Regions from separate parts of the Homo sapiens genome. Here region 1 is linked to region 2. The links come from fine-mapping of genetic effects on gene expression. A gene starts in region 2. The other region holds a variant in brackets. All regions are shown on one strand. Distances are between the middles of the regions. Region 1 holds the start of TMEM167B-DT (TMEM167B divergent transcript). Region 2 holds the start of WDR47 (WD repeat domain 47).

Evidence for each region. PIP is the estimated chance that this variant, and not a neighbour inherited with it, causes the effect. A credible set is the group of variants that fine-mapping cannot tell apart.
Region 1: its variant is the best candidate, but not a certain one, in a credible set for the expression of WDR47 in whole blood (TOPMed, PIP 0.53).

Annotation. Positions count from the first base shown.
Region 1 is chr1:109,082,765-109,088,141 of GRCh38, reverse strand. It overlaps TMEM167B-DT (TMEM167B divergent transcript), which reads left to right and starts at 3,392. Exons shown (of 2, transcript XR_947688.3): 1 at 3,392-4,927. The variant T/C (reference allele first, on the strand shown) is at 2,861.
Region 2 is chr1:109,038,787-109,044,163 of GRCh38, reverse strand. WDR47 (WD repeat domain 47) reads left to right here and starts at 2,062. Exons shown (of 15, transcript NM_001142551.2): 1 at 2,062-2,302. RefSeq lists a silencer at 1,865-2,414.

The DNA of each region.
Region 1 (5,377 bases), 44 kb before region 2:
GACTAGAAAATTTTCCTCCATACCACACTGGTGTTTCCTTTGACAGCAACCACTACCTACTGAATAATGCCTAAGTCCTTAGCCTGCTACTCAAGGCCTTCCAATAGTATTTTCCACTGTTCCCTATATGGGCTTTAAGCTTTGTCTATAAAGACTATGTTCTTCAGTTACAGTCTTTGCTTTCTCATTTTTGCTCATGCCACTCACTTTTTAGAGATAATTTTTTCTCCCCATTTTTTTTTAACTAGATGAAAACCTCTTCAGTTTTTGTCATACTCTGAAAGACAAGTCTTTCCTCTTCTGTCATTCTCAGAGGTTAGAATAAAAGTTAATCAGCTGGGCGCAGGGGCTCACGCCTGTAATCTCAACACTTTGGGAGGCCGAGGCGGGAGGATCACCTGAGGTCGGGAGTTCGAGACCAGCCTGGCCAGCATGGTGAAACCCCGTGTCTACTAAAAATTCAAAAAAATTAGCCGGGAGTGGTGGCAGGTGCCTGTAATCCCAGCTACTCAGGAAGCTGAGGCGAAAGAATCACTTGAACCTGGGAGACGGATATTGCAGTGAGCCGAGATTGTGCCATTGCACTCCAGCCTGGGCAACAGAGTGAGACTCCACCACAAAAAAAAAAAAAAAAAAAAAAAAAAAAAAAAGTTAAGCCCGGGCGCAATGACTCACGCCTGTAATCCCAGCACTTTGGGAGGCCAAGGTGGGCAGATCACCTGAGGTCAGGAGTTCAAGACCAGCCTGGCCAACATGGTGAAACCTTGTCTAAAAACACAAAACTAAAAACACAAAAATTAGCCGGGCATGGGGGCGTGAGCCTCCAATCCCAGCTACTCAGGTGGCTAAGGCAGGAGGGAGAATCGCTTCAGACTGGGAGGCGAAGGTTGCAGTGAGCCGAGATTGTGCCACTGTACTCCAGCCTGGACAACAGAGTGAGACTCCCTCTCAAAAAAAAAAAAAAAAAGAATAAAATGTAAAGGCTGGGCATGGTGGCTCACACCTGTAATCCCAGCACTTTGGGAGACCGAGACAGGTGGATCACTTGGGGTCAGGAGTTGGAGACCAGCCTGGCAACATCGTGAAACCCTGTCTTTACTAAAAATACAACAATTAGCTGGGTGTGGTGGTGTCTGTCTGTAATCCCAGCTACTCGGGATGCTGAGGCAGGATAATCACTTGAACCGGGGAGGCAGAGGTTGCATTAAGCTGAGATCACGCCACTGCACTCCAGCCTGGGAGACAGAGCAAGACTGTGTCTCATAAACAGAAAAAAAAAATTAAGGATGAAATCAAAGCTGAAAAACCAGGAGGAGTGATGAATTGGCAAATTACAATTTTTTTTTTTTGAGACAAAGTCTCACTCTGTTGCCCAAGCTGGAGTGCAGTGGTGCAATCACTGCTCACTGCAACCTCTGCTTCCTGGGTTCAAGCAATTCTTCTGCCTCTCCTCCGGAGTAGCTGGAACTACAGGCATGCGCCATCGTGTCCGGCTAAGTTTTGTATTTTTAGTAGAGATGGGGTTTCACTACGTTGGCCAGGCTGGTCTTGAACTCCTGACCTCGTGATCCGCCCGCCTCGGCCTTCCAAAGTGCTGGGATTACAGGCGTGAGCCACCACACCCAGTGGCAAATTCCAATTTTTATTTTATTTTATTTTAGCTTTGAGACAGAGTCTCGCTCTGTCGCCCAGGCTGGAGTACAGTGGCGCCATCTCGGCCCACTGCAAGCTCCGCCTCCCAGGTTCCCGCCATTCTCCTGCCTCAGCCTCCGAAGTAGCTGGGACTACAGGCGCCCGCCACCACGCCCGGCTAATTTTTTGTATTTTTAGTAGAGACGGGGTTTCACCGTGTTGACCAGGATGGTCTTGATCTCCTGACCTCATGATCCACCTGCCTCGGGCTCCAAAGTGCTGGGATTACAGGCATGAGCCACCGTGCCCGGCCTCAAATTACTATTTCTAAAGGGCAGTGATAATGCACACAGTATCTTATGATTAAACAGTTTTCTTTTAACTCCACTCAAAATTTACTTTTTCTTCATTTTCCACGTCTGTCTCTATTCTTCCTACTTTTTTTCTCCCACTCTTAAATTTATTTCTTCTTTCTCCCTCCACCATATTTTTTCTTTTTCATATTGTAAAAGATATTTTACATTTTTTTAATTGAATAGAGTGAGTCTCACCAGGCTATTTCAAAATTAGTTGTATCAAGACTTTTATATTCTAAAATCAAAAAGTTGACCAGGTGCGGTGGCTCATGCCTGTAATCCCAGCACTTTGGGAGGCCGAGGCAGGCAGATCACGTCAAGAGATTGAGATCATCCTGGCCAACATGGTGAAACCCCGTCTCTACTAAAAATACAAAAATTAACTGGGCGTGGTGGCACGCACCTGTAGTCCCAGCTACTCGGGAGGCTGAGGCAGGGGAATCGCTTGAACACGGGAGGAGGAGGTTGCAGTGAGTTGAGGTCGCGCCACTGCACTCCAGCCTGGTGACAGAGTGAGACCCCGTCTCAAAAAAAAAAAAAGTTCAGTTTTCTGTGAAATTAAGTTAGTTCCTTTCTAAGGTTGTTGGAGGATTAAGTGAATTACTATTTACAACAATATCTGACATGAGTAAGTATTCCATAAATGATAGCTATTATTGTTGTTCATTTTGAGGGAAGAGAGAGACCCTCTCATATTGTTCTATACTCAGAAAAGGAAAGAGAAGAGAAACTAAAGGCAGGTAGCCCAGTGCCTAGGAACCACACCTGAAACCAGGCCTAGGCCTGCCTGACCTAAGCCTGGTAGTTAAAATTCGACCCGTGACTTAGCAACTGATGTTATCTATAGATTCCATATATTGTATGGAAAGACA[T/C]TGTGAAACCTCCAGTTCTGTTCTGTTTCGCTCTGACCACTGGTGCTTGCAGCCCCTGTCATGTACCCCCTAGCTTGCTCAATCGATCATGACCCTCTCATGTGGATCCCCTTAGAGTTGTGAGCCCTTAAAAGCACAAGTTGAGCACCTGAAGAGCTCGGCTCTTGAGACAGGAGGCTTGCCGATGCTCCCAGCCGAACAAACCCCTTCCTTCTTTAACTCGGTGTCTGAGGAGTTTTGTCTGAGGCTCCTCCTGCTACAATTTGTTTTAAAAGTATCTGTGGTTGGCCTGGTGGCTCACGCCTGTAGCCCCAGCACTTTGGGCACTGAGGTGGGCGGATCGCTTGAGCTCAAGAGTTCAAGACTGGCCTGCACAATATAGTGAAAGTCTGTCTCTACAAAAAATAAAAAAATTACCCAGGCATGGTGATGCATGCCTGTGGTCCCAGCTACACGGGAGGCTGAGGTAGCAGAATCACCTCAGCCCTGGAAGTGGAAGTTGCAGTGAGTCATGATTGTACTGCTGCACTCCAGCCTGGATAACAGAGCGAGACCCTGTCTCAAAAAAAAAAAAAAAGTACTTGTCAGTGTCTACTACTGTGTGCTAAGCACTTTGCTTGATTTTGCAGAAATGGGGCATAAATAAGTCCCTGCCCTCAGAGAAGAAAATATGTTGGGTAAGATAGATGAATAAACACATTTTAATAGAACATGAGCATTGTGTAAAGACAGTATCTTTGATTTTCACAACTGTTTTACAGATTTTTTTTTTAATTAAATCTTGAGACTTAAAGAAGGGACGTGGGTGAGATAACATAGCCTGTTAGGATCCATACCCAGGTCTAAGTTCAAAGCTCCCTTTCCCTTGTTATCACACTGCCTCAAATTACAGTGCTTTCCACTGATACTGATCTTTGATTATTTTGTTACAATCATTAATGTTTCTGTCACCCTGGAAAGTCTCATAGCCTCACTGCCACCCAGTGCAGTCATGTCTCACATCAGGCCAAAGCCTGGGTGACCAGCTCTTGCAGCCCAACTGCAAAGAATAAATAGAGCCTACTGGCCTAGGGACTCTCAATTCAGACAGTTCTTCCTCAATTCATTTCAGTGTTCACTGGAGAATTGGTAGTTGTTGCCAAACGCCTGTCAGTCAAGAACAGTGGCCTGTTTGTTAGGGTTGTTGCAGTTATTGTGGTGAACACTAATCAGTCATGGGGACCATGACTGTGGCATTCTGGTTTAACCAAAGAGTAAGTTGAGCCTCAAAGGCACAGCTTGCAACAATAGCTTCATTTGAATTACAACATATTTGAAAAGGGATGTCAAATAGGCATTAATTTATGCTACAAACATTTGTTCCAGGACTTCTAAATCTAAGGAATGTGCTAGCCTTTGGGAACTCAAAGATGAATGAGAAATAGACTCTGTTCTTAAAAAGTTTAAGATTTAGTAGAAAAAGATAAGCTGTGTTTATAAATAACCAAAAAATACAGCAGAAAGTGAGAAGTGTCCAAGGAAAATGAAAACTAAGTGCCAGGGTGGCGGGGGGGTGCGTAGAAATGGGAAACTGCCTTCAGCTGGAGCGTTCAGGGAAGGCTTTATTGAGGAGCAGACATTTTAGCTGGGCCTGAAAAGCTTATAGCATTTCAATAAGCAGAAATAAAGAGCATTCTAGTGGGGAGGGAATTGAGCCATCAAAGCCCTGGAGAGGGAAAGTGTAAGGTAAGATTGGGGCACAGTAAAGCCTCCCTTCCTCCTTCAATGGCTAACTCACATTCATCCCTCAAGTCCCAACTCAGACCTCACTTGCTCAAGGTAGACTTCTCGGACCTTCAGTCTACTTCCCTGATCATGTTTCCAAAGCATACTATATCTGTTTAACTTATGTCCCCCTGCTATATTGTAATGTTCATTTGTTTTGTCATTTTATCCACAATCCCATAGCTAGTGCTAAACATTTTGCAAGTGCTTCATGAATATTTATTGCATGAATAGTTGAATGTGGCCTTGTGGAACTGGAATGCAGAGCTCATGAAGGAGAACAGCAGAAGATAATGGTGAAAGGTAGGCCCTTAAATAAAAACAACTGCCGGGCACGGTGGCCCATACCTGTACTCCCAGCACTTTGGGAGGCCAAGGCGGGCGGATCACCTGAGGTCGGGAGTTCAAGACCAGTCTGACCAACATGGAGAAACCCCATCTCTACTAAAATACAAAATTAGCCAGGCGTGGTGGCCCATGCCTGTAATCCCAGCTACTCGGGAGGCTGAGGCAGGAGAATCACTTGAACCCGGGAGGCAGAGGTTGCCGTTAACCAAGATTGCACCATTGCACTCCAGCCTGGGCAACAAGAGTGAAACTCCATCTCAAAAAATAAAAAAAAATAAAAACAATGATACTTATGGAATATTCACTACATGCCAGGTACTACCCAAAACACTTTATGGTTATTAACACATCTAATAACCTCATAATAACCTTATATGGTTAGTAACTATTATTATCCCCCTGTCA
Region 2 (5,377 bases):
TCTCTTGACCTCTTGACCTCGTGATCTGCCCGCCTCGGCCTCCCAAAGTGCTGAGATTACAGGCATAAGCCACCACGCTTGGCCTGCCATTTACTATTTCTTTGTGTTGGGAACATTCTGAATCTTCTCTTCTAGCTGTTTGGAAATATAGAATAGATTATTGTTAACTATAGTCACCCAATTATGCTATTGAGCACTAGAATTTATTCCTGCTACATAACTGTATTTTTGTACCCATTAACCTCTTTATCCCCCCTTTGCCCTCCACTACACTTTCTAGCCTCTGGTAACCACCATTCTATTCACTACCTCCACGAGATCAATTCTTTTAGTTCCCACATATGTGTGAGAACGTGCAATATTTGTCTTTTTGTGCTTGTCTTGTTTCACTTAACATAATGTCCTCCCGTCCCATCCATGTTGCTGCAAATGACAGGATTTCATTCTTTCTTAATGGGTGAATAAGATTGTATTGTGTGGCCGGGCGCGGTGGCTCACGCCTGTAATCCCAGCACTTTGGGAGGCCGAGGCGGGTGGATCACGAGGTCAGGAGATCAAGACCATCCTGGCTAACACGGTGAAACCCCGTTTCTAATAAAAATACAAAAAAAAAAAAAAAAATTAGCCGGACCTGGTGGCGGGCGCCTGTAGTCCCAGCTACGCGGGAGGCTGAGGCAGGAGAATGGCGTGAACCCGGGAGGCGGAGTTTGCAGTGAGTCGAGATGGCGCCACTGCACTCCAGCCTGGGCGACAGAGCGAGACTCCGTCTCAAAAAAAAAAAAAAAAAAAAAAGATTGCATTGTGTATATGTACCACATTTTCTTTATCCATTTGTCTGTTGATTGACATAGGTTGATTCTATATTTTGGCTATTGTGAATAGTACTGCAATAAGCATGGGAGTGCCAGAAATATTTTTGATGTTTATTCTCTTTACCAGACTGTTACCCCATTTTCCCCTTTTGGGAGGTCCAGCTCACTCTGGACTTTCGCCTCTGTGAGGATGATGTTCTTTTTTCTGTGAGACGGAGTCTCTCGCTCTGTCACCCAGGCCGGAGTGCAGTGGCATGATCTCGGCTCACTGCAACCTCCGTCTCCCAGGTTGAAGCGATTCTCCTGCCTCAGCCTACCAAGTAGCTGTGATTACAGGAGGCTTGCCAGCACACCCGGCTAATTTTTGTATTTTTAGTAGAGACGGGGTTTCACCATGTTGGCCAGGCTGGTCTCAAACTCCTGACCTCAGGTGATCCGCCCGCCTCGGCCTCCTAAAGTGCTGGAATTGCAGGCGTGAGCCACCGCGCCTGGCCGAGAATGATGTTCTTACAGGTTTGTGTAATTGTATTCTTCCTTATGGTTATACTTCCTGGATGCTTAATTAAGCTCGGTTGAACATCACGTATATTTGTGGAATAAGGGGCTTACAACCAACAGGAGTAGACAAAACCTGAACATATTAAATGTTAAGTAACTGAAAAATGCTTTCAAGGCAGATCAGCTTTGCAAAATGAGAAACCAGGAAGGGGACAAACAAACTACTGGAGTTTTCTGGGACGAAGTGGGACCTAGGAAAGCAGCGAAAGAAGGGTAGAAGGCAACATTAATTTCATTAACCTTTATTAATTATCGGGGAGGAGTATGAAGAGTCAATCCTAATGCGCAGTCTTCTCCATTTGCAGGCGACAATCCTGTTCGTGCTATTTTGGGACATGGGGTCACCGGCCAGCTAAGGGTCTACGTCCCTGCCACCAGTCTCACGCTATTGCCGCACCCGTTCTGCTACTCCCCCGGGCCCCTAGCCGGTCCCTCCAAGCCCGACCCCCGCCCGCCCCGCCCAGGCTTTGGTCCGCCCCGCCCAGGCTTTGGTCCGCCCCGCCCCTCCCCGCCCCAGCTTTGGGCCCGCCCCTCCACGCCCCTCCCCGCCCCGCCCCGCCCCGCCGACTCGCCCTTCGGCTCAGGCACCTGCCTGGCCGCCCCGCGCGGCGGGGTCCTGAGGCGCCTCGGGGAAGCGCGGCGATTGGCTGCCGCTCGCGGGTAGAGCTCGGCTCCCCGGCACTTGACAACCGCAGTCTGCAAGAGGCTGAGCTGAGGAGTCGCTGGGCCGGGAGGGGCGGACGTGAGAAGGACGGATTGACGAACTGATGGATTGACGCGCGGGCGGTAGGAGGGAGGACCGACGCCAAACCCAGACCGCCGCCGTCGTGCTCCTGCCGCAGCCCGGAGCCGGCCGCTTCGGGGCCCTGGCCGCCGGCCTCCCAGCCGCGTTCTCCTCCGCCGCTCCTCCGGGCTTGCCCTGGAGCCCTCAGGTGGGTGACTCCGGGAGTCGGAGGCTGGGTCGGTCCGCTGCACACCTCGGGTTGCCATGGTCACCCGTCGCCTCCTGTCACCACCTGACACGGCTCCGACCGGGCGGCCCCGAGGACTGTGTTTGCGGCCCCGGAGAGGGGTCTTTAGTGGGCTTGGGTGCCGACTGGGAGGGGGCTGGGGTCGTGGGTGAGGCCCCAGCATCGCGGGGTGAGGATCTGCGAACTGCTGGGCCCCGGTTCGAGGTCACCGGTCCTGGACCACACCTTTCCCACATTACCAGTTGGATTCTGGGGGCAGAGCGACGCCCCTCGCCCTGGCACTGAGCAGCAAGTGAGCGCGAGGTTCGTGCCCATCTCGCCGCTGCGCCGATTCTTCCTTCCTCGCCCCTTGGTCGAGCCCGTGCGAGAACTGAGGGGCGCGCTCGCGTCCCTTTCTGGGCACGCCTTGGCCCGGAGGAAGAGAGGGAGCGGCGGGGCTGGGAGCCCCGCTGGGGCCGGTTTTGGCCTTTCTCACATCAATGGTCGGGATGGGAGCAGGCCTTTGGGGATCTGGGTGTGGTCGCGGAAAGGGGCAGCGACTCGATTTAGAACTGGGATTGCGCTGGAGGGGCGCCTGCGTAGAAGAACGCAAGGTTGTGGAACTCAAAGGGTTAAACCGCTTCCCTTTATTGGGGAGAAAAATATTGGAACTCTAGCTCTGGGGCGAGGCCATGGGCAAAGGGGGCGGGGGCGGGGGGCGAGGGTAGGCCGGGGCGGCATTTGGGCTTTTGACCAGATGATTTTTCCTTCTCTGTACCCAGACGTGCAGTTAGTAACCGTGCATGGTATCTGAGGGGACCGTTTTTTTTTTTTGGCAACTTGGTTTTCTCTGCATAATGAAAGGAGAAGTCTTTGTTCCACCCAGATTCGTAGGTTGTGATCCTAATACTTATTTCTCTCTTTGTTGGAGACTCTGTAGAATGCCTCAAAAAGTTAATGGCACAGAAATGAACATGTAGGTTTAAAAAATGCTATAAATCTTTTTTTCACAGTAAATTCAAGTAGAATTTTTTTGTCTCCAGTGTTGGCATATGTTGCATTGGCATTTTACTAAGAAGGAGAAACGCCTAAGAGCCCATTTTCCTTTATATGGCATATTGTCGAGGTCTCATTTAGGAAGAAGATGAAATGAATAATTCTACTTTAGGTTTGGGAGATTAGGAGAGATTGCTTCCAATAGGAAAGAAACATTATTACACGGTAATGGAAAAGTCAAGTCACAACAGTATATTGTTAGGTAAAAAAGCCAAAACCCAAACACTTGAATTTGGATGCCATTATGAAGATGTAAATTTTTTTTTTTTTTTGGACGGGATTTTAACCTGTGTTTATCTCCCACTGGTCCACTTCCTGGTTCTTTTCTCCCTCGCCTTAAAAACCAGTACTGTTAAGAATGTGTCATAAGAGAACAGGGGTACTATCCTATGTTACTACTTACATAATGGTGTTCAACCTCTTTTCCTGTTTGTGAAATAGAATATATTAGTTATTTAATGGGCGGCATATGAAATGCTTAATGTATGCTGCAGTTTCAGAAACGCTTTAGTTATGAAAAGATGTGCAGTTTTCCTTAGTAGATCAGTAAGCTGAAAAATCAGATTACCTGTATTTAAGCTTTCTTTTGCTACTGATTGCATTCTTGTAAGAGCTGCTAAGCTTAACATTGACTGATTTCTCATTCTGTAAAATGGTGATGCTTGCTATTGTTTTAGTCTGAGAATGGGCTTTGAGTTGAAAGCACTTTGGAAGGCATCTGTTGATTACCTTTTTTTTTTTTTTTTTTTTTTGAGACGGAGTCTCACTCTGTCATCCAGGCTGGAGTTCAGTGGCATGATCTCGGCTCACTGCAGCCTCTGCCTCCTGGGTTCAAGCGATTCTCCTGCCTCAGCCTCCCAAGTAGCTGGGATTACAGGTGCCTGCCACCACGCCCGGCTACTTTTTGTATTTTTAGTAGAGATGGGGTTTCACCATGTTGGCTAGGCTGGTCTCGAACTCCTAGCCTCAGGTGATCCACCCGCCTTGGGCTCGCAATGTTGGGATTACAAGCTTGAGCCACCGTGCCTGACCCTGTATATTATTTTTGAACAGAAGACTTGAACCCAGGTCTTCAGACTCCAAATCCAATGCTGGCCCACACCTGAGGATACTTCAGTTTTGAGACTATTACACCGAATAGCCAAAGCTTGCATATTTCAACTAATTTTTCTCTATGTTGAGTTTGTTTCTGTTCAAGTGAAAAGATATCCTTAAAAAAGGGTTTATACCGGCTGGGCGTGGTGGCTTGTGCCAGTAATCCCAGCACTTTGGGAGGCCAAAGCGGGCGGATCACGTGAGGTCAGGAGTTTGAGACCAGCCTGGGCAACATGGTGAAACCCTGTCTTTATCAAAAATATAAAAATTAACTGGGCATGGTGGCGTGTGCCTGTAATCCCAGCTATTTGGGAGGCTGAGGTAGGAGAATTGCTTGAACACAGGAGGCAGAGGTTGCAGTGAGCCAAGATCATGCATGCCACTGCACTCCAGCCTGGGCGACAAAGCGAGATTCCACCTCAAAAAGAAAAAAAAAAAGGATTTATACCACACACTCCCTTAAAACCTTTCTTTTGTGTTCTATAGTCTTATTCACTGTAATAGCTCGATCATTGTATCCCAGTTTGTAGCATGTTGTTAATACATAGTAAATGCTCATCACTCATTACCCACCTGAACTTCTCCTGTTTAAATGGCTTCAGATGAATATTATCACAAGTAGGAGTTTCTTCATATAGTATGTTTAACATAATTGATCTCAGTGAACTTTCCAATATTTATTTATTTATTTATTTATTATTATTGTTATTATTTGAGATGGGGTCTCGCTCTGTTGCCTAGGCTGGAGTGCAGTGGCGTGATCTCGGCTCACTGCAACCTCCGCCTCCCAAGTTCAAGTGATTCTCCTGCCTCAGCCTCCCAAGTAGCTGGGATTGCAGGTGCACATACCCCCACACTTGACTAATTTTTGTATTTTTAGTAGAGACAGGGTTTCACCATGTTGGC